3 separate regions of the Homo sapiens genome follow, and all the other regions are linked to region 2. Evidence: fine-mapped expression QTL. A gene starts in region 2. Each other region holds a variant in brackets. All regions are shown on one strand. Distances are between the middles of the regions.

Evidence for each region. PIP is the estimated chance that this variant, and not a neighbour inherited with it, causes the effect.
Region 1: its variant is the best candidate, but not a certain one, in a credible set for the expression of MRPL1 in whole blood (GTEx, PIP 0.53).
Region 3: its variant is the best candidate, but not a certain one, in a credible set for the expression of MRPL1 in monocytes (BLUEPRINT, PIP 0.55).

The regions. Positions count from the first base shown.
Region 1 is chr4:77,740,804-77,743,577 of GRCh38, reverse strand. CNOT6L (CCR4-NOT transcription complex subunit 6 like) reads left to right here. Exons shown (of 12, transcript NM_144571.3): 8 at 1,283-1,437. Among named protein-coding and RNA genes, the nearest start is that of CNOT6L, 77 kb to the left of the region's middle. The variant T/C (reference allele first, on the strand shown) is at 1,626.
Region 2 is chr4:77,861,668-77,864,441 of GRCh38, reverse strand. It overlaps MRPL1 (mitochondrial ribosomal protein L1), which reads right to left and starts at 1,612. Exons shown (of 9, transcript NM_020236.4): 1 at 1,563-1,612. The coding sequence starts at 1,593. RefSeq lists enhancers at 1,065-1,164, 1,525-1,924.
Region 3 is chr4:77,964,937-77,967,710 of GRCh38, reverse strand. No RefSeq gene overlaps it. Among named protein-coding and RNA genes, the nearest start is that of FRAS1, 91 kb to the left of the region's middle. The variant TTC/C (reference allele first, on the strand shown) is at 999.

The sequences.
Region 1 (2,774 bases), 120 kb after region 2:
TACAATTTCACACATTCTTTTCATCATAGCCTGAGAGGAAAAATTATTAAAAATTTTTTTATGTAACAGAGTAGCTTGATAATTTATTTTTAGGTTGCTTGGGAAAAAAGTAAAAATCTTTTAAAATTAAAATAAAATTTCTTCTAAATACTGAGACTAACAGAGAATTGGGGAGAGGAGGCGGCAAACAAAATCAGGCTATTGTAGTTTCTTGTCTACTTCTTGGTTTAGTATTTGTAGTGATAACAGCCTCACACCCTCCTAAATATAGCAGTTTGAAGGATAGAACATAATTTAAGAAAATTGTCTTATTATAAAAGCAATGCTATAATACTATACTGTATTAAAAAGAGATCATTCTAGAGAAGTTGAAAATTTTGAAAAAATATAAAGCATGATGGAGGGAAATACCTAATTTCATGTCATAAGATAGTTGTGTTAAAACTTCTGGAGTATTTTTCTTCTATACATTAAGTAAAATATATTTACAGATACATTTTGATTCTTATTTATTGTACTTAATGGATTTTCCATGTTACTAAAATTCTTCAAAACTCATTAATTATATGAACGTATATTGATGTAGCTTTTCCCATACCATTGGACACATTTAGTTGTTTATGGGTTTTTGCTGTCATAAACTCATGCTGTTAGAAACATCTGCATACATAAATTATCTTCATATTTATTTCATTTAGAAAGACCTGTTAAAATATTTTATGAGTCAAAGAATAAAATAGACTAATAATTATTAAATTAATAGAGGCCATTGGATGATTGCGATTTAGGTACTTAAAAATTTCTTAAAGTAGAATTTTTTGTGGATAGATTTTACGTTTCTCACTCTTGGGTATCATTTCTTTCCACCATAGTTCAGAAGGATATGCAAGTTTTTAAATTACCTTTTTATATATAAATTACTATTCCCTATCACAGAATCTATCATATACCCAACTTGCTTTGTTTAGTTGCCAGTCTTGAGGAAGTAAAGTATAATGGAGTGAACTGTAAATTGGGAATCAAGAGACCTTGGGATGTAGTCCTACTCCTGTTACTATCTGTGTGAGCATGAGAAAATCATGTCACCTTTCTGGTTCTTTCATGTTTAAAAAGCTGCCATTGTCAAGTAGCAGCTGCTAGCAATCAGGTAAGATAGTAAGATAATATTTGCTATGTGAATTATTTTTACTAAGTTACATCTTACTCATAATGCTGAACATTTTTATATCTTAATCAGCATTTTCCCTCTGTCATATAGATGATAACTTTTCTTTCATCTCAGGAAGTGGAAACAGAGCAATACTTCACTCTCTTTCTGCCAGCATTGAAGGAGCGTGGATATGATGGATTTTTTTCTCCAAAGTCACGTGCCAAAATCATGTCTGAGCAGGAGAGAAAGCATGTAGATGGTTGTGCAATATTCTTCAAAACAGAAAAGTAAGTTAAGGAAACAAAGCACAATGGTGTACTTTTATTTATTTAAATGCTTACACTTTAAAATTGTCTTTGGTTTTGCCCTATAAAATCAACAGAAAGCTAGAAAACAAGTATTATGCAACTTAAAACTGTTGTTAATGTTTCATTTCTCAGGCTGTGTATTCGAAATAAGGATATTTATTGTATTA[T/C]TCCTTATGCTTTTATTACCAAATAACACTGAACATTTTAAGAGATACAGACTTGAATGGTCTCATATTTCAGAACATATTTTCATGAAGTAAAGTATTAGTTTTTGTGTAAAAAAAGAAAGTGATACCTTTTAAGGTTGGCCATAAGTGATCTGGGTTTCTTTTCTGTGATTTTTTTTTAATAATTGATTTTTGAGAATCATTCATTTTAAAATCATTTATTCACTAAATGTATACTGAGCATTTGCTTTGTGATAAGTCCTGTGCTAGACACAACAGACACAAAGATAGTCAAGACATAGTTCCTAATCTCACTGAAAGCTCAAATCCAGTAGGAAAAACTAGGCATATAAGACAATTGCAATATCATATGGTGTAATATAAGATAGAGGTCTGCCTGGGTAGATAAGAGAGGCAGGCACAGAGCATATGGAGGTAGAGAGTTAAAAGGGTTGACTGAGACAGGGCAATGGAAAATGAAACGTGACATCTGATAGAGGTTGAATCCCATGGTTAATAGTTTGGATTTCATACGTTAGGAAATCATCTTACAGGATAAGCATATACATGCTTACAGCTGTTTTCCAGTATTTCCCCATTTTACATCTATTTTACCAAAGCCAATCTGTTTTTATTGATCCAAGCATATTACCAGCATGACATGCTATTTTAAGTAAACAAATTCAATGAATTTGAAAGATATTTGGTCCACTTCCCATTTATCTATGCCTACTTTCCTGTCTTTTCCATGAATTTGTAGTAGAGATATTCTTATTTTGGTTAATAATTAGTACAAAGCCTTGTAGTATTTGAGGTCAGAATATACTAAATTCTTCTAATGGTTTGGTAATTTTTTATGCATTTTAGAATAATTCTATTAAAACTACGTATCTCTTAACTACGGGAATATGTTCTGAGAAATGCATCATTAGGTGATTTTGTTGTTGTGGGAACATCATGAAGTGCACTTACACAAACCTAGATGGTACAGCACTATACACCTAGGCTATAAGGTATAGCCTGTTGTTCCCAGGCTAGAAACCTGTACAGCATGTTACTGTAGTAAATAGACAATTGTAATACAATGGCATTTGAGTCTAAACATATCTAGACGTAAAAAAGGTAATGTATTGTGCTGTGATGTTAAGA
Region 2 (2,774 bases):
ACAAACTTTGGATGAGCTAACCAAGGAGTGAATTTAGATACAGAAGAGATGAGAATGAAGGATGGAACCCTGGCTTCCAGAACACTCCAAAGTAAAGAGGCTGGGGAGAGGAAGAGGAACCAGCCAAGTAATGTGAGAAAAAATGACACATGAAATAGGAAGACAATTAACAGAGAGATATCCTAGAAGCCAAGAGAAGAAAATGTGACAAGAAAATTATAATATTCAGGTATTTTTGGTTTCTTTGGATTTGTGTAACATAACGATTTCTGTCATACATGAAGATGCCTTCAACCTCCTTTCAGAAATAATATACATTTTGGTTTGCTCACAAAGTAGGCATCAGGGTCTGTTGTTATCTCTTGTCACCCCTAATTTTTGAGCAATAACTCTCTTGACACAGTTTTCCTAAAAAGAAACTCAAAAAAAAAAAAAAAAAAACTGTGATGCAGTGTTAAATATACATGTATCACTGACCTAGGATTGCAAGCTTCAGTACTTCCTCTGCCATTTACTAGTTATATGAACTTGGCCACATATCTAATAAGTTCAGTTTCTTCCTCTGTAAAATGGGGGTAATGCTGGCTACTGCTTCTACCTAAAGACCTACCTAAATTAAACAATATATATCACTGGACTTCAAAAACACAAAATAAAAGCAAAAAGCGTTGCACAGGCCGGGCGCAGTGCCTCACGCCTGTAATCCCAGCACTTTGAGAGGCCGAGGAGGGCGGATCACCTGCGATTAGGAGTGCAAGACTAGCCTGGTCAACATGGTGAAACCCTGTCTCTACTACAAATACAAAAATTAGCCAGGCATGGTGGCACACGCCTGTAGTCTCTGCTACTCGGGAGGCCGAGGCAGGAGAATCGCTTGAACCTGGGAGACGGAGGTTGCAGTGAGCTGAGATCGCACCACAGCACTCCCAGCCTGGGTGGCAGAGCGAGACTGCCGTCTCAAAAAAAAAAAAAAAAAAAAATTGTTGCACAAGAAAGGGCTGTCATCGTAGACAAAAAGTTGAAATTATTAAGATGAAAAGAGGCGCTACCAAGAGGTACTACAGAATTAGCCCCCTCAAATGATAAACGTTGATCCAAATTAGACCACCTATGGAAGTTTAAGAACTGGAATCGCCTATAACGAAGTAATTCCGAAAGCACCAAAAAGCACTTTGAAAATTGCTCTAATTTACAGACTTAAGCCACTCAAATACATCATCTTTCCCTTATCAGAACTCACCTCACTTATCACACTCCACTACCCGCAGCCCACACCCCAGTATCAGAGACGACCCAGTCCTTGCCATGCCCATAGGTGGCTGGAGGGCGCTCGATGTACGTCCCGCTCCCACTCCCTCCCTCAGGGTGGACGTCTCCAGAATGGAGTGAAACCCTTCATAAGGTCACTTTTAAGTAGTAATGACCCACCCTCTGAAAAACCTAGAGACCAGAAACAGCACGAGGCATTTTCAGCACCCAGAGCAGAATCCGCCTTGCACTCTGCTGCAACCAGAGACTCGGTGCCAGAGCCATTTCCCCTGCAAGACAACCCCTCGCCTTACCTCTACCCATGCACCTTACGGCCGCCGCCATGTTGGGCACTCCGGATTGCGTTCACGAAATTGTTCCTACGTTTCTACTGGGAAGAATTAAAAAAAGGTTCCGTTCTAGAATCCGCAAAGAGGGAAGGAGTTAAAAAGAGAAAGAGGAACGGGGCGGGGACCAAAATGAGCTTTGCTGCCGGCGTGGCGGTGTTACTGTTAGTCCTCCGTGTTGCCCAGGACCCTGTGTGTTTCGTGGTTCCGGTATGGCTGGTTAACCACCTTCGGGAAAATACGATCCTGTTGGCGATGCTGTGATTATTTTAATCCTTCCTTCTTATTCTTTTTCTTTTTTGATCCTGCAAGTGTACTCAGAGCGACAATTTTAACAGGCTGTGAGAGTACTTAATACCCAACGTAAAATCTTGAAAAACAGGAACCCTGAAACCCACTAGCTTCCTCCGCCACTTTTCCGGCCTTGGAAAGACTTATTTTAAAAATTCTCTAGGCGTTTTCGCCGCTACCCGAGGGAGGTGTCCAACTCACTGACAAACTTTTTTTGCTAATTGTCAAACTTTCTGTCAGCGCAAGATCAACCTTAGCTTTAAAATCTTAAATTAATCTCTACATTTACCCCCTGCTGGCAAGCGAGTAGACTTACCATTAGGATCAATTGAATAATAATACTTGACATTTATAAAACATTTCTAGTTTTAAAATGGCAGCTCCAAGACCCACGCACAAGTTATTCTGATAGGAAAAAAAAACAAAAACAAAACAGAATGAGTGTACTTTCCATTACGTCACAGCTGTCGGTGTGGTTTATCTAAAACAAATCTGATTACGGATTTTATCACTTCCCAGCTTACCTCCCCCACAACACACACACACACACACACACACACACACACACACACACGTTTCTCACCTCCATAACTTGGTTCATTCTATCTTCTCTGCTTCGTGTGTACCGTACCCTACATCACCTAGGTAACTTTTTAAAGATTTCGCCTCAGGCTGTGTTTCTTTTAAACAGTTTTGAGATATAATTTACATAGCATACAATCTACCAATTTAAATTGTACAATTAAATGGTTTTTAGTGTACTCAAAGAGTTGTGCAGCCATCACCACAATATATCAGTTCTTGTCACCAGTCTGAGCTTTTTATGGGTAGAAACCATCTTACTCATTTTTGTAACCTCAGCACATACTTCAGTGCCAGGCCCATAGG
Region 3 (2,774 bases), 100 kb before region 2:
GGCAAGTGAATGCCTTACACATCTTGTAAGGCTTGGAGTTAGGAGTATGACATTCAGCATAAACTACTAATGCTAAAGCTTATTTCCTGACTTCCTTTTCCTTAGATCTCTGGTTTCATCCACTACTGCCAAACTCTTATCTATCTATCCATCCTTCCTTCCTTTCTGTTTCTGCCTCATGTTTTAATTATCTTTTACCTTAGATTTTAATTATCACCTTTGTTTTCTCAGCATGGCCAAACATTTTTAAAGACATAACTCTTTCTTTAACTTTCTTCTTTGAAAACCCCTATCTTTAATTCATTGCCATATTTTTTAAATTTGAATTTCAAGCAACATGCTATTATCAATCTATATCATACCATAATCAACACATCCAACACATTCCAGAACCTTACAGACCTTTAAAGCTACATACTCTCCAGCGAGCCCCTAAATTGTCAGAATTCATGCTTTTTTTTTGAAACGGAGTCTCGCCCTGTTGCCCAGGCTGGAGCGTAATGGTGCGATCTTGGCTCACTACAACCTCCACCTTCTGTGTTCAAACGATTCTCTTGCCTCAGCCTCCAGAGTAGCTGGGATTACAGGTGTCTGCCACCAGGCCCAGCTATTTTTTGTATTTTTAGTAAAGACGGGGTTTCACCATGTTGGCCAGGCTGGTCTCGAACTCCTGACCTCAAATGATCCGCCCGCCTTGGCCTCCCAAAGTGCAGGGATTACAGGCGTGAGCCACTGCGCCTGGCCTATTCATGCTTAATCCATTTGTATCATCTTTCCTCCTCTGTCACCCACTTCCCCTAAATTACTTTGACCTATGAAGCTATAGCAATCTTCTCAGAATTTTCCCTAGTCCAAATGAAAATAAAAGATTAAAAAATTAAAATATAAAGGAAGAAGAAAATTTTAAAACTAAACAGAATTAAACTTAAACTACAAGTAAACCAGCTCCTCAGTTAGTATGACAACATAATAGATTTAAATTATAGCTTTTTTTTTTT[TTC/C]TTGAGATGGAGTTTTGCTCTTATTGTCCAGGCTGGAGTACAATGGTGAGATCTCGGCTCTGCCTCCCAGGTTCAAGCAATTCTCTTGCCTCCCAGGTTCAAGCAGTTCTCTTGCCTCTTGCCTCAGCCTCCCAAGTAGCTGGGATTACAGGCATGTGCCACCATGCCTGGCTAATTTTGTATTTTTAGTAGAGATGGGGTTTCTCCATGTTGGTCAGGCTGGTCTTAAACTTCCAACCTCAGGTGATCCACCCACCTCGGCCTCCTAAATTTCAATCAGTCTCCTACAGGGACAACCAACAATAATACTTGGGAAGATTGTAAGATTCAGCAAATTACCTTGTACCTTGAGGTACAGGAGGCAAAAGTGTTTGAATCTTCCATGACACTTCTAACCAACAGTGTGATTGTGTGGAGCAGTATAGTGAGGAAAAAAACAACCCTGAGACCTCATAGAAATCAGTGGGAAAGTCTTCTGTGATTCACATCATCTGTCATGTGCCTGATGGGGATGGGGAATGGTAAGAATCTGTGCCATAAATTTGCAGACTCTATTCTAGGTAAGAGCAGTAATATTTAAATTGCATAATGTATCAGAAATAACATCTTAAAACCTTATAGACTTGACTTTACCAAATACTGGGATTTAAATATAAAGAGGAGGTAGGGTTCAAATCAGCTGGGTATCCTAACCAACCTGACAGGATTCTTCATTACACTGCATAATACAAACAGAATTAACCCCTCTCCCAGGAAGGCAGTAACTTGTTGGGAGTCAGAAAATAACAGATTTCTTCCATCTCTAAGTCTTTTTATTTTTAAGAAGTTATTTTATGAATCCCATAAAACTCTAGATCACCATACTACAACTTTAATCAATGTAGAGTGATATTCTAACTTCTGTCTCCTCCACTCACAGGATTTTTAAATCCCTCAAAAATTACTGGACAATGTCACATTTAGCAAAATGATTAAAGTGAAAAAATAATGAACCAAGTATTGGCAAGAATATGGAGAAGTTGGAAATCTTCCACACTTTTGGGAATGTATATTGGTACAACTACTTAGGAAAAGTGTTGAGCATTGTAATGGAGCATGTTACTATCCAGCAAGTTCACGCTTAGGTATATATACAACAGGAATGTTTATGTATATATCTTGTGCACTTCTGTTGGTGAATATATATATATGTTCACCAAACTATATATATACTCATTTTCCTCATGTATATATGTTCATCTTATCTATACATATGTTCATCGCCCTCATATATATATATATATGTTCACCAAACGTGGACAAGATATAAATATGTGCGTATAAACTTGGTACAAAAGTAATTGCTGTTTTTAATGGCAAAAACAGCAATTACTTTTGTACCAACCTCATACATACATACAAATACATATATTTGTGTACACACACTAATGTGTATATATAAGCATTTCTGTTGTATATATACCTATGAATACATATATATTCTTTTCACCAGAAGTGGACAAGAATGTTAATAAGTAGCATCATTGTAATAGCCCTAAAACTTCACAAGAAGAAATATACAAAAATGTTCATATCAACGTTATTTGTAATACCCCAAACTGTAAAAATCCACATGTCCACCAACAGTAGAATGGATATTTGTGATACATTTAAGCAATGGAATATTATACAACAATGAGAACGAACAAACTACAACTACACACTGGATGAATGTCATAAATATAATGTTGAATGACTGAACCCAGACCTCCCCCAAATCACATATGATAATTAT